Linked DNA regions of Homo sapiens: all the other regions are reported to be linked to region 1. The links are microRNA targets in miRTarBase. Many come from high-throughput screens and were not tested one by one. Region 1 holds a microRNA gene; each other region holds the end of a gene's coding sequence.

Evidence for each region. Region 1 holds the annotated microRNA hsa-miR-30b-3p (CUGGGAGGUGGAUGUUUACUUC, at 1,443-1,464, opposite strand). A microRNA usually pairs through its seed, bases 2 to 8, with sites in the 3' UTR of a target mRNA and lowers its output. Matches are read on the target gene's strand: a 7mer-m8 pairs with bases 2 to 8, a 7mer-A1 pairs with bases 2 to 7 and ends in A, and an 8mer does both.
Region 2: the mRNA of PGBD4 is a reported target of hsa-miR-30b-3p. Seed matches in the 3' UTR shown: 7mer-m8 at 803-809.
Region 3: the mRNA of SNTN is a reported target of hsa-miR-30b-3p. Seed matches in the 3' UTR shown: 8mer at 1,483-1,490.
Region 4: the mRNA of SCAND3 is a reported target of hsa-miR-30b-3p. Seed matches in the 3' UTR shown: 7mer-m8 at 1,718-1,724.

Annotation. Positions count from the first base shown.
Region 1 is chr8:134,799,090-134,802,336 of GRCh38, forward strand. It overlaps MIR30B (microRNA 30b), which reads right to left and starts at 1,518; the gene lies at 1,431-1,518. It also overlaps a transcript of ZFAT not described here.
Region 2 is chr15:34,103,931-34,106,930 of GRCh38, forward strand. PGBD4 (piggyBac transposable element derived 4) reads left to right here. Exons shown (of 1, transcript NM_152595.5): 1 at 1-3,000. The coding sequence ends at 359. Among named protein-coding and RNA genes, the nearest start is that of PGBD4, 3.3 kb to the left of the region's middle.
Region 3 is chr3:63,663,525-63,666,771 of GRCh38, forward strand. SNTN (sentan, cilia apical structure protein) reads left to right here. Exons shown (of 4, transcript NM_001080537.2): 4 at 413-1,688. The coding sequence ends at 571. Among named protein-coding and RNA genes, the nearest start is that of SNTN, 12 kb to the left of the region's middle.
Region 4 is chr6:28,569,367-28,572,613 of GRCh38, forward strand. SCAND3 (SCAN domain containing 3) reads right to left here. Exons shown (of 4, transcript NM_052923.2): 4 at 1,169-3,247. The coding sequence ends at 2,545. Among named protein-coding and RNA genes, the nearest start is that of SCAND3, 16 kb to the right of the region's middle.

The DNA.
Region 1 (3,247 bases):
CTCTCGTAATGACAAAGAAAATTAACAAATTATTCATTAAACAAATAAAATATATAATTAGAAAAACAGCACTCACCTTCAACAAGTCTCCATGCTTTCATTTCACATTTTTATTTAATCATGTATTTCTCATAACATTTAGACATCTTCCACAGGAGCACCAAGCATGAATTCTAATTCTGGATTTAGGCACAGGCAAGAGCATACAGACACTTGCCAAGCTGCTAGGATGTGTGTACTTCTTACATAATTTTCGTTTTATACTTGTTTGTTTTGCTTTTCACCTATACAGAATGTGGATGTATCACCAAAAAAAGAAAAGGCAGGCTGATTTCATGGAACTGAAAAACAAAGCTATAAAAAATTAATTTTCAGTATTTTAAGTAAAGACATGAAAATGGAAATAACGTTTAGACCAATCAGTACATATATAGAACTAATTATCAGGTATTAGCTTATTTTTAAATTGTTACCTCATTTAGTCTCAACAATCCTATCAGGTAGGTGCTATTATAATTTCAATTTAGTCGACTGAGGAAACTGAGGCACAGAGAGATTAATAACTTCCCCCAAAGTAACATAGCGAAGTAACTCGCAGAATCAAGATATGAGCTCCAGAAGCTGGGATTCAAAATTCTTTGCCACTATATTACAACAATATCAAAGATTCAAAGCATTTCCATTAAACCAAAAAGTTGGCATCATCTTTATTGCAAAAATAAAAACAAGTTATGTCTGCTTTAAGCATTATGGCAACTATTTACTGAACACCTACAACACAGCATTAATAATAACTAGCATTTATTGAGTACTTAATATGACAGGTACTGTACTAATGAACAACTTTATATTCATCATGTAAGTCAATCCATGCAATCACATACTTATTTTACAGATGAGAAAACCACTGAGGTATGGAAACAGTGCCTTTCCCTCCTCCAAATCCCGTAGCAAATTCACTTGTGGAGTCCAGATGGCAACAAATGTCTGATGTCAAAGCCCATGCTTGTTAAAGCACACTGCAATACTACAAACCCGACCCCAACTACCAAACAAGGGCATTCTTTTGTCCCAATACCCAGAGCCTTATGTCATGTTAGTGCTATAGCAAAATTGAAAAGATACAATAAAAATTTAAATTGAGTAACAAATTTAAAGGAATTTTAATAAATTTAGAGTAATTTTTCCTCTATAAGCATACTGTTTTTCTGTTTTAACTACTCCTACTGCAACCATGCTTTCTTCTGCTTTTCTCTGCAAACATATTCAAGTAGATCCCTGCCAGCTAGACAATTAACACACTTTTTCTCTGGGAGAACAAAATGGTCTCACATTTCCAACAAACCTTTAATTACATTAATTACATTAAAAATTCAAGCCTCTGTATACTATTCTTGCCAAATCTTTTATCAATGTTAATTGGTTGACATTCCAAGTCAGCTGAAGTAAACATCCACCTCCCAGCCAATCCATGTATTACAGCTGAGTGTAGGATGTTTACATGAACTGAAACTTGGTTTAAAGCAGGACTTAAACTCTTTACTAAGTTTGTACGGTTCTTTACGTAAGACTCTGTTGAAAAAAAGAACAGGCACAGCATTCACATAAATGAGGCAAGACTCAATCGGAAAGATATCCTGAGAGAAAGTGTAGAATCCAAGGAAAAGGCAGAAGTGAGTTGGGTGTTTGTTTTTTTGGAAGTGGGGGCGTGTCCAGGGCAGTGGGGGGCACTACAGGCACGCTACTATGCCCGGCTAATTTTTCTTATTAATAAAATTTTTTTTAGAGACAAGGTCTCACTATATTGCCCAGGCTAGTCACAAACAAGTGATAACGTTTTTCACCAAAGGAATTTACAACAATAAATGCCGACATCCTGTAGTGTTCCATATCTAAATGTAGCTGATTATCCAGCCTTCCTATATCCTTCCCTTCAAAACAATCAAACTTGCATTTATAAGAACTTACTTGATGACCAGTATGATGCATCAACCAATCTTCATTAAGAAGATTCCTCCTTTAGGTAAAAGACAGTTAATGAAACACTGTGAGGAGCTTAGTCATCTCTCCTCCCCCTCAACCCTCTCCTCATCTTCTCCCCCACATTCAGAATTCAGATAATTTCATCTCAGGCACATCTTTCCCACACTCTGATCTCTTTCCACCTTCTACTGTTCCCAGTGTCATTAAGGTGTCTCAAAGAAATGTCTCCCCCTCTTTTTGCATTCTTTCTGATTAAAAATATATTCCCACAAATATCTCCACTAACTATTATCAGTGGTCCTACCAACACACTTGCATCAAAGAAGAGGAAATCTTCAAATTTGGAAGTAAAACTACATATAATAACCACTGCCAGCAAACTTTAAAAATCTTTGGCATTTCACAGGTAACCCAGGACTTTCAGGAACCTCGCCAGTCTCTACCTAGTCTCTTGTCCCTTCGGGCTGTTTTCCAAAAGCATTGGTTCTCAAGATTAAATACACATATACCTCCCCGCCACCCCACTCTACAACCATACTGCTTTTCTGTTTTAACTACTTCTATTACAACCGTATTTTTTTCTTCTGCTTTTCTCTGAAAACACATTCAAATAGGCCCCTCCCAGCTAGACAATTAATATACTTTTTCTCTGGGAGAAAAAATGGTCTCACATTTTCAACAAACCTTTTTATAATCAAACTTCTGGATTAATACATGTTTTTAAGTTAAGGATTTTTCTGTTTTACTTCATGTATTAATTGGGCATAATATCTAGCAGGAAAAGAATGTAAGATGAGCTCTGTGATTCTGAAAGCATGGGCCTAGAGGAGCAGCATCAGCAGTACTTGGGAACTGTGGGGGGAAAAGCACATTCTTATGTTCCACCCCAGACCTACTGAATCAGAAACTTTTTTTGCAGGGCCCAGCAATCTGTGTTTTAATCAATAAGCCCTCCAAGTAATTCTGATGCAAGCTGATATTGAACAGCAATGGACTGTTTCACCAAACCTGTTGGAAAGCTAAAGCAAAGACAGCAGTGAATGTCAAATTACTAGGAAGTTTGTAATATGGTACAGATAAGAAAAAGGCAATGCCAAAACATGTAGCATGGGTCCACCCACAATTAACCAGGCTAGGCAAAGTGTGGCAGAGACTATCTGAAACAGCCTTATTTTAAAAAGTAACTAAGCCCAAACTGATATTCAAACTAAAAAAAAGAAACAAAAATATTACCTGAGCACACACAGCAAATAATGCACATTGA
Region 2 (3,000 bases), not on the chromosome of region 1:
CCTACATCCTGTTCAAGAAGGATAATCCTGAGCACACGATGAGCCATATAAACTTCAGACTGGCATTGATTGAAAGAATGCTGGAAAAGCATCACAAGCCAGGGCAGCAACATCTTCGAGGTCGTCCTTGCTCCGATGATGTCACACCTCTTCGTCTGTCTGGAAGACATTTCCCCAAGAGCATACCAGCAACGTCCGGGAAACAGAATCCAACTGGTCGCTGCAAAATTTGCTGCTCCCAATACGACAAGGATGGCAAGAAGATCCGGAAAGAAACGCGCTATTTTTGTGCCGAATGTGATGTTCCGCTTTGTGTTGTTCCGTGCTTTGAAATTTACCACACGAAAAAAAATTATTAAATACCGATCATCATACACATCTGTTCCATTAGGATTAGAGACAAGTTCTGTTTAGAAATAACTCCAAGATTGGGAGGCCGACCTGGGTGGATCACCTGAGATCAGGAATTCAAGACCAGCCTGGCCAACATGGTGAAACCCTGTCTCTACTAAAAATACAACAATTAGCTGGATGTGGTGGCACATGCCTGTAATCCAAGCTACTTGGGAGGCTGAGGCAGGAGAATTGCTTGAACCCATGAGGCGGAGGTTGCAGTGAGCTGAGATCACACCACTGCACTCCAGCCTGGGTGACATAGCGAGACTCCATCTCAAAAAAAAGAAATAACTCCAAGAACAGTTTTGTTGTTTTTGTTTTGTTTTGTTTTGTTTTGAGACGGAGTTTCACTCTTGTTGCCCAGGCTGGAGTGCAATGGCATGATATTGGCTCACTGTAACCTCCACCTCCCAGGTTCAAGCGATTCTCGTGCCTCAGCCTCCCTAGTAGCTGGGATTACAGGCATGTGCCACCACACCCACCTAATTTTGCATTTTTAGTAGAGACTGGGTTTATCCATGTTGGTCAGGCTAGTCTTGACCTCCCGACCTCAGGTGATCCGCCTATCTGGGCCTCACAAAGTCCTGGGATTATAGGCATGAGCCACTGCGCCTAGCACCAAGAACAGTTTTTATATTTTATTTTCACATTGAAAATCAGTCAGATTTGCTTCAGCCTCAAAGAGGGTGTTTATGTAAAACTAAATGAGTGCAGGCAGCGAGCTACACTTTTTTTTTTCCTAAATGGAAAATGGGAAGGAGATACTGTCTCTGAACAAAAATAGCTGGAAAAACACATAACTGTTAACTAAGGGTTGCCTCTAGTGAAAAGGATTGGAAGACAATTTATCTGATGCTACACTATTCTTCCTGTTGTGATTGTTTTACTGTGAACATAACAAGGTTGTATTGGGGAGGAGGGCAGGGGTTGATTGCTGCCAATGTTGATTGCTGAGGCCTTAGCCAAGATTTCAGGCATCATTTGCTCCAGTCCTTTCATTTTCTTTATGGTGGAAAGTGAAGTGACTTGCCCAAGATCTTTGTTGGCCCTAAACATCGCTGTCTCTGCTACAGATTCCTATTGAGAGCAATGCATGTTTTAGCCTTGTGCACTCTTAGAGTCAGCATCATGGGAAAGAGTAACAGCAATTGAAAAAAGAGATTCAAGAGCCAAGTACTCAGCCCTGGCAGGGGATGGGGACATGATGCCCAGAGCCACCCCTATACTCCAGTCTCCCTGGCATCAGCTACTGCAGTACTGGGGTACTTGCCTTCATCTTTTTTCTGAAGATAGTTACTTCTTCATATTTGATCATCGGAAGGAGCAGCATTGCTCAGAAACACACACACACACACACACACTTGACTTTCTTGTCTGCCAAATAAATTTCTTATTTGCTAGGGAACTGGTAATCTAGGCTCAAGAAGTGTGTGGAGAAGGTTTATTTTCATTCTTTTTACTTTAAAATATGCCTTAGTTTTTGAATAGATAAGACATTCAAGTGTCAGAAAGTAAAAGTCAGTTCAGGACTGAGAAAGGAAAGATCAGTGCTGATTTTAATCAGACTGTAATGTACCAACTAGATACAGACAGGGCCAGTGGCAAGGCCATCAGAAAACTTCTTCCCAAGGCCACACCACACCTGCAAAATGCCTAACAACCTTCTTCTTTTCAGTGATTACCACTTTCTTACCAATGACTTCGCTTTGTTCCTCGTGCCTCTGAACAGACTGCTGAGATACCCAATCAAGAGCCAATCCTTGCTTCCCTAGACTCTCCTCAATCATTCAACAGAAGCCCAAATCTTGTAAAAGTTCCTTTCTGGGCCGGGCACAGTGGCTCACGCCTGTAATCCCAGCACTTTGGAAGGCCGAGATGGGCGAATCACAAGGTCAGGAGTTTGAGACTAGCCTGGCCAACATGGTGAAACCCTGTCTCTACTAAAAATACAAAAAAAAATTAGCTGGGCATAGTGGTGGGTGCCTGTAATCCCAGCTACTTGGGAGGCTGAGACAGGAGAATCACTTGAACCCGGGAGGCAGAGGTTGCAGTGAGCCAAGATCGCACCACTGCACTCCAGCCCTGGCGACAGAGTGAGACTCCATCTCAAAAAATAAAAAAGTTTCCTTCTGTTCCCTCTTACTGTTATATCCTTGGTTTCTCTGGTGTGGGGTCTTCCTTACAGCAGCAAGCTCATAAACTTAACTTGACCGCAGGTGTGTTCCTTGGTGGTCTTTATCTGATAGACTTTGTCACATGGTACAATATTCAAAAGGCACATGGTACAATATTCAAAAGGCACATGGTACAATATTCAAAAGGTATGAGTATACAAAAAAAATCTCCCACCTACTTCTCTCCCTAGTCACCCAATTCTCAAGAGGCAATCACTGTTGCCATTTTCCTGAGTATTCTTCCACAGATAGTCAACTATCTACAGAAAAATATATACATTAAAAATAAGGCCAGGCACAGTGGCATGCCTGTAGTCCCAGCTACTCAGAAGGTTGAAGCAGGAGGATCACTTGAGGCCAGGAGGGCCAGGAATTTGAAGCTGTAGTGTGCTATGATAGCAGGCCTGTGAATAGCCATTGCACTCCATCC
Region 3 (3,247 bases), not on the chromosome of region 1:
GTTTGAAGTCATGGGGACAGAGCTTTCTTGAATAAATGAATGCCCTGCCTTGGGGGTGGTGAGTGAGTTCTCACTCTGTTAGTTACCACAAGAGCTGGTTGTTTAAAAGAGCCTGGAACCCTCCCTCCTCCTCTTGCCCCCTCTCTTGCTGTGTGATCTGTTCATACACCAGCTCCCCTTCACCTTCTACCATGAGTGGAAGCAGCCTGAGGTCCTCACCACATGCAGATGCCTGATCTTGAACTTTCCAGCCATCAGAATTGTAAGCCAAATTTTTCTTTTTTCTTTATAAATCACTCAGTCTCAGGTATTCTATTACAGCAACACTAAACAGACTAAGACATTATTGTTTATGATCTGTAAACCTAAAGTCTATACAACGAATTCGGTTTTTATTTCTCCATTCTCACAGGGACAAGAAACCAAGCCAAAATACAGAGAGATCCTTTCTGAACTTGATGAGCACACAGAAAATAAGCTAGATTTTGAAGACTTCATGATCTTGCTCTTAAGCATCACTGTCATGTCAGATCTGCTACAAAATATACGGAATGTAAAAATTATGAAATGAACAGTTTTAAATATGCTGTATAAAATAATGGCAAAAGACAGTGTTATTAAAATGTTTCCATCTTATTTTTGATTAATTGAATATATCTATCATGCATCTGAAATTGCCTAGGATGGTTCTGATTGCTGGTATTCAGATCCAATGTAACTCCAAATATTTACCCATACACTTCAAGAATGTTTGAATGATAAGGTCTCTGTGTGCTTTACAATAGGATAGATTTGATACCACTGAATAATAAATGGCTTTTGCTGAGTCAGTAGCGACCTAGAGCACTCTACTTATAGTCATTGAGTCACTCATTTATTCACTAAACATTTGTTGAGCATCTACTTGATGGAACTGCTGAGGATACAGTAATGAATTGGCCAGGCAATTCCTTCCTTCAGACATGTTTGCAGAAGTCTAGCAGAAGAGATAGACATTGAACAATTTTTAAATAATTGCATACACAGTATAATTAGAATTGAAATAAGGGCTATAGGATGCTAAAAGAGATTATCACCTGATCGGAGTTCAAAGGTCAGAAAAGCTTTACTGACATTCTATAAAAAGCAAAAAAAAAAAAATTGGTCCATGGATGCCAGGGATATGGGTGGGAAATGGGGCTGTCCACAAATGGCACAAGGGGAGTTTTTTATTTTATTTTATTTTATTTTATTTTATTTTATTTTGAGACAGAGTTTTGCTCTTGTTGCCCAGGCTGGAGTGCAATGGCACGATCTCAGCTTACTGCAACCTCGATCTCCCAGGTTCAAGTGATTCTCCTGCCTCAGCCTCCTGAGTAGCTGGGATTACAGGCGTGTGCCACGATGCCAGGCTAATTTTTTTTGTATTTTTAGTGGAGACGGGGTTTCGCCATGTCGGCCAGGCTGGTCTCGAACTCCTGACCTCAGGTGATCCGCCCACAGCCTCCCAAAGTGCTGGGATTACAGGCTTGAGCCACCAAGTCTGGCCAAGGGGACTTTTAAGGGGGCTGGAAATGGTCTCCATTTTGATTGTGAGGTGGTGGCTACAAGATTGCATGCATTTGTCAAACTCATAGAACTGCACACTGAAAAGAGTGAATTGTACTGTATGTCAATTATACCTAAATAAATCTGACTTAACAAAAAAATAAAACCCAGTATTCTTGTAATCTCTGAACACAATTTAACCAACAATTCCTTGGGATTATGATGTAAAAGTAGTCATATCCCAGAGACCCACACCGACTCCCATGACCACCTCCTGTATTCCTGAATATAAATTACATACACACATATAGTCAACGCCTGAACCTTTAAGGTAGACTCTCACAAAGATTTTTATTCATGTAGGACCTCACTTGAGGACAGCAGGCCCCAGTAGGGTAGCTCAGCATATGGCAATGGGCACTCAAGGTCCCCAGAGCGGGCACTGGGCAACAGCCAGAGGCACAAGCCTTCATCAACCCTGGCTTTCAGAGATGCCATCTTACTCTATCTTTACATGGGAGTAATAATGTTCCCCCTTTCCAACTGCAGGAACTGAGGATTACAGTAGCTAAATGATGGTCCAGGATCATTGAGGCAATCAATTTCAGAGTCAGAATCCTGGCAGAAGCAAAGAGGTGCCAAAAGGGGAGGAGAAACAGGAGACATAGTTTTCCGGCTTTGATTCCCATTTTGTTCCAGTCACTTGCTAAGTTCCACAATCAGGCAGGCAGTCACCTAACATGTATTGCACTTCTACCGCAGGCTGTTGCCAAGAGAGAGGCAAAGAGGAACGAGTCACAGTCTTTACCTTCCAGGAGTTTATGGCTGGCAAAACATGTATGTAAATGTGGTCTATTGGAGCTATTCTATAATCCTGTCAAATGCATGGTAGGACTTTACTTCTCTGTTTCCTTACAGTTGAGTGTGCCCATCCTTTGACCAGTGACATCTGAGCTGAAGTGAAATATGCCACTTCCAGGTGGAGGCTTTGAGAGCCTGGGTCAATTCACTGCCCTGCTTCCCTGGGCTGTGATAACTGGCAACATGCCCCATGGAGGCTGCTCCTTTAGCCTGGGTCCTGAGGGAGGCCAGTTTAGAGCAGAAGCCCAGACAAACTGATACAGACATCTTGCTGAAGAAAGAAATAAATATTTTACCAGAAAAAAAGACGGTTATTCACTGTAAAATTATTATAACTTCCCAAGTTATCCCTCACCTCTCATTTTCTTCCCAGCCCAACATTGTATGCCTCATAACCTATGTTAAGAAAATCTGCCAGGCACAGTGGCTCACGCCTGTAATCCCAGCACTTTGGGAGGCCAAGGCGAGCAGATCACCTGAGGTCAGGAGTTTGAGACCAGTGTGACCAACATGGAGAAACCCCATCTCTACTAAAAATACAAAATTAGCCAGGTGTGGTGGCACATGCCTGTAATCCTAGCTACTCAGGAGGCTGAGGAAGGAGAATCACTTGAACCCAGGAGGCAGAGGTTGCAGTAAGCCAAGATCGCACCATTGCACTCCAGCCGGGGCAACAAGAGTGAAACTCCATCTCAAACAAACAAACAAACAAACAAAAAAATCCTTTCCAGAGAGAAACCTTCAGCCTTGCTCTGGTGAAGTGTTGCTTCATCCTGTCGTTTTCCAGATCCACCAGAACCCAACTCCCTGGCCCTCCCCACTTCCAAAGCTCAGACATCCTAAATCGAAGAGATTACAG
Region 4 (3,247 bases), not on the chromosome of region 1:
CCTAAATTAACACCCAATCTGGAAATAAAATACAAGTCTTTCCTTCCTGAAGGCATCTTCAATCACTACCAGTGATTCCTTTGGCAGAAAGCACAATTTTGGGAGCTAGTTCTACGACTTCTTAATCATCCTTCAAGTTAGGTCTGGGTGTGTGCATGGAGGCAGTGGGTGGTGGGGTTTTCTGATTCTAGTCATTGTCAGATTTCTTTAAAAAGTGAAGTACTTAGCGTTCCCTTGACCCATCTTTGACTCCTCCCTAGTTGCTGTTCTTTGAGTAATAGGAAAAGCCCAACACAACCTCCTGTTATACATAAATACAATTTTTTAAAACCAGCACATATATACATGATAGATGGAAATAAACAGTACTGCATACAGTAGTTGTAAGTATACACAAATAAAGATACCTTTGCATTGTATTCATATACCACGTTTATAGACATGTGAACTTGCTGCAAAACAAGCAGAAAATAGGAAGAGAAAATCAGGTTATCTACAGAATCACTAGTCATCAAATTCACGTTAAGAATAGGCAGTAAGATTTCATGATCTCAATAAAAATCTCAATAAAGCTGTTGCCCTAAAAAAATTTACAGTGAGACAATAAAACAGGGAGGTAAGGGAGGAAAGACAAATATTCCTATGTCTTAAAAAAAAGGTAAAGCAAGTTAGCCTCCTGGCACTGAATCATTTGCAGAAAAAAATAAAAATAGTTGTTCAAGTATATGAGAAGGCTTTGTACCAATCTCAGACATCCAATACTTTATATTTCTTAGAGAGAAAGTGAAGGCTTTGTACCAATCTCAAACATCTAATACTTTATATTTCTTAGAGAGAAAGTAAGGGAATTTAGTTCTCTTTTAATATGTACTCTTAATTCCCTCTTAATTTCTTCCAGACTACTTTAAGTTTTTATAGAAATAAATATAAAATCACCACATTGCCTTTTGAAATTAAAAATGGGAAACACAATACTTTATTCAATCAATAAAACAAACTGTAAAACATTTTAAAATCCCTTAGTTCTAGAATATGGTCAGATAAGAAAGAGGGCATATAATTTGTCAGTGGGAGAAATTAAACCACTGTCTTCTAAATCTATCCACCATGATAAGGTTTTTTGTTTTTGAAAAGCTGTAAGATTAAAACAAACACACAATAAAACATAATCCAATTAAGGTTTCAGGACTAAATATGAACCTTTCCTCTACTTTCAAAGGTTTGGAGGATCCTTGAAACTTCCATTACCAAAAGGTTAAATTATTAGTAACATTCTGAATCACTAAATAGCCTTCCTTTCCTTAACTTTGAATATCACATTTATTTGAAACGAAGCACTTACTGTAAATTGCTACCCTGTCTAGGAAAAGATATTTTCTTCATGGATTCTGTCATGTTTTGATGCTAAAGAACCTGTTTTATCGGACTAATTTGCTTTCGATTATTCTAAATGAGTTCACAGACACAAGAGCAGATATTTGTGGCATTTTTCTGAATCATCTCCAAACAAAATAGAGGTTGTTAAATCTAATTGAGGTGCCAATAATTTCTGACTTTGTCCCAGAGCACCTTAAAGGCAATCAGTTCTAGCAAAATCTAGAAACCACCTAACATAAACTTGTCAGTATGGCCCAATCGCCCATCCTTATGAAATCAGAATTTATCGGCCGGGCGCAGCAGGTCACGCCTGTAATCCCAGCACTTTGAGAGGCCGAGGTGGGAGGGTCATCTGATGTCAGGAGTTCAAGATGAGCCTGGCCAACATGGTGAAACCCCATCTCTACTATAAATACAAAAATTAGCCAGGCATGGTGGTGGGTGCCTGTAATCTCAGTTACTCGGAAGACTGAGGCAAGAGAATCACTTGAACCCAGGAGGTACAGGTTGCAGTGAGCAGAGATTGCACCAATGCACTCCAGCCTGGGCAACAGAGCAAGACCCTGCCTCAAAAATAAATAAGTAAATAAATTTATCAATATGAATCCAAGGCCATAACACCATTACAAAATAAGTGTTCCCTTCCATCTTTGTCTAAACATGCACCTACAAAACAAACAACATCAACTTCCAACCTAACCACTCTGGATCAGTTTAACAAACTTCATACCCTACTGACCTGTCCCCTGCATTTGAATTCTAAGCCTACCCCTTTGAATTCACTTCCTTTCACTGACCTTGTCTATTTCAAAGAAACCATCTCCCATCCTGAAGTTGTCCTACAATCTTAACATGCTAATGAAATACAAGAAGAAGACACAAAATATAAGATCAAATGTTTTAATATTAGAATCAACAGATTTAAAATTATATTTTAATAAATACGACAAATATGAGGAAAAATAGAATTATAAAAACTGTACACATTCTTAATTGAAAATATACATATAGGCAATTTATATAGAAAATTGCTGTTTCACTCATAACTTCTCATACTTCCATAACTGTAACTAGACAGAAAGTTTAAAGTGAAATAGCAAATTCCTCACACTCAATGCTTATATGCATACTTTGAACCAATACCTTACATATCAATATTTAAAGCTTTTAATGTGATAAGTGAGCTTGCTTCTTGCTTGTTAATTTGTCTAATCTAGGTTGGATTGATGACAATGCTACCCTCAGGGGATAATGTATATTTAAACTGTTTCTATGTTTTGTTTTAATAACACTTAAAGTAGAGAATCCGGTCTCACAGAGGTATGTTGAGGGGAAAAGAAGCAGCAATTTTAAAGCAATCTCAGCAAGCTCAGGATAGTCATTTTTAGCTTTTATCCAAAATGAAGGAAGTGATGCTGTATTTTCAAAACTGATTTTCAATCCTTCGTCGGTAGCCAGCTTCAACAACTTATCCTGTAGAGTTACAGTTAAATTTAAGTTATCTTTTGATGAAAGAAATGGATTTTGGATCCACAAATTTCCTATGCGTGGATCTTCTTTTGATGGAAAATAAAATTCAAAACATTCTAACAAATTTGTAAGATGTTCACTGATAACTTTTCGCAGATGTGCAATATCAAGATCATTACCTACTTCATTGATAATTGTTGTTAAATTATGAAACATGTCATAACAATCTGTAGAAATTCTGTTTTTCCAAGCTTCTAACTTCTGTTTTTGTCCTTCAACTTTATCTGCCATTGAAAAATAAGTTGCATTCTTCCCTTGCATAGAAGCATTAAGATCATTAAAAATACTGAAGATATCAGACAAATAAGCAAGTCTGGCTGTCCAATTCACATCTTTAAAA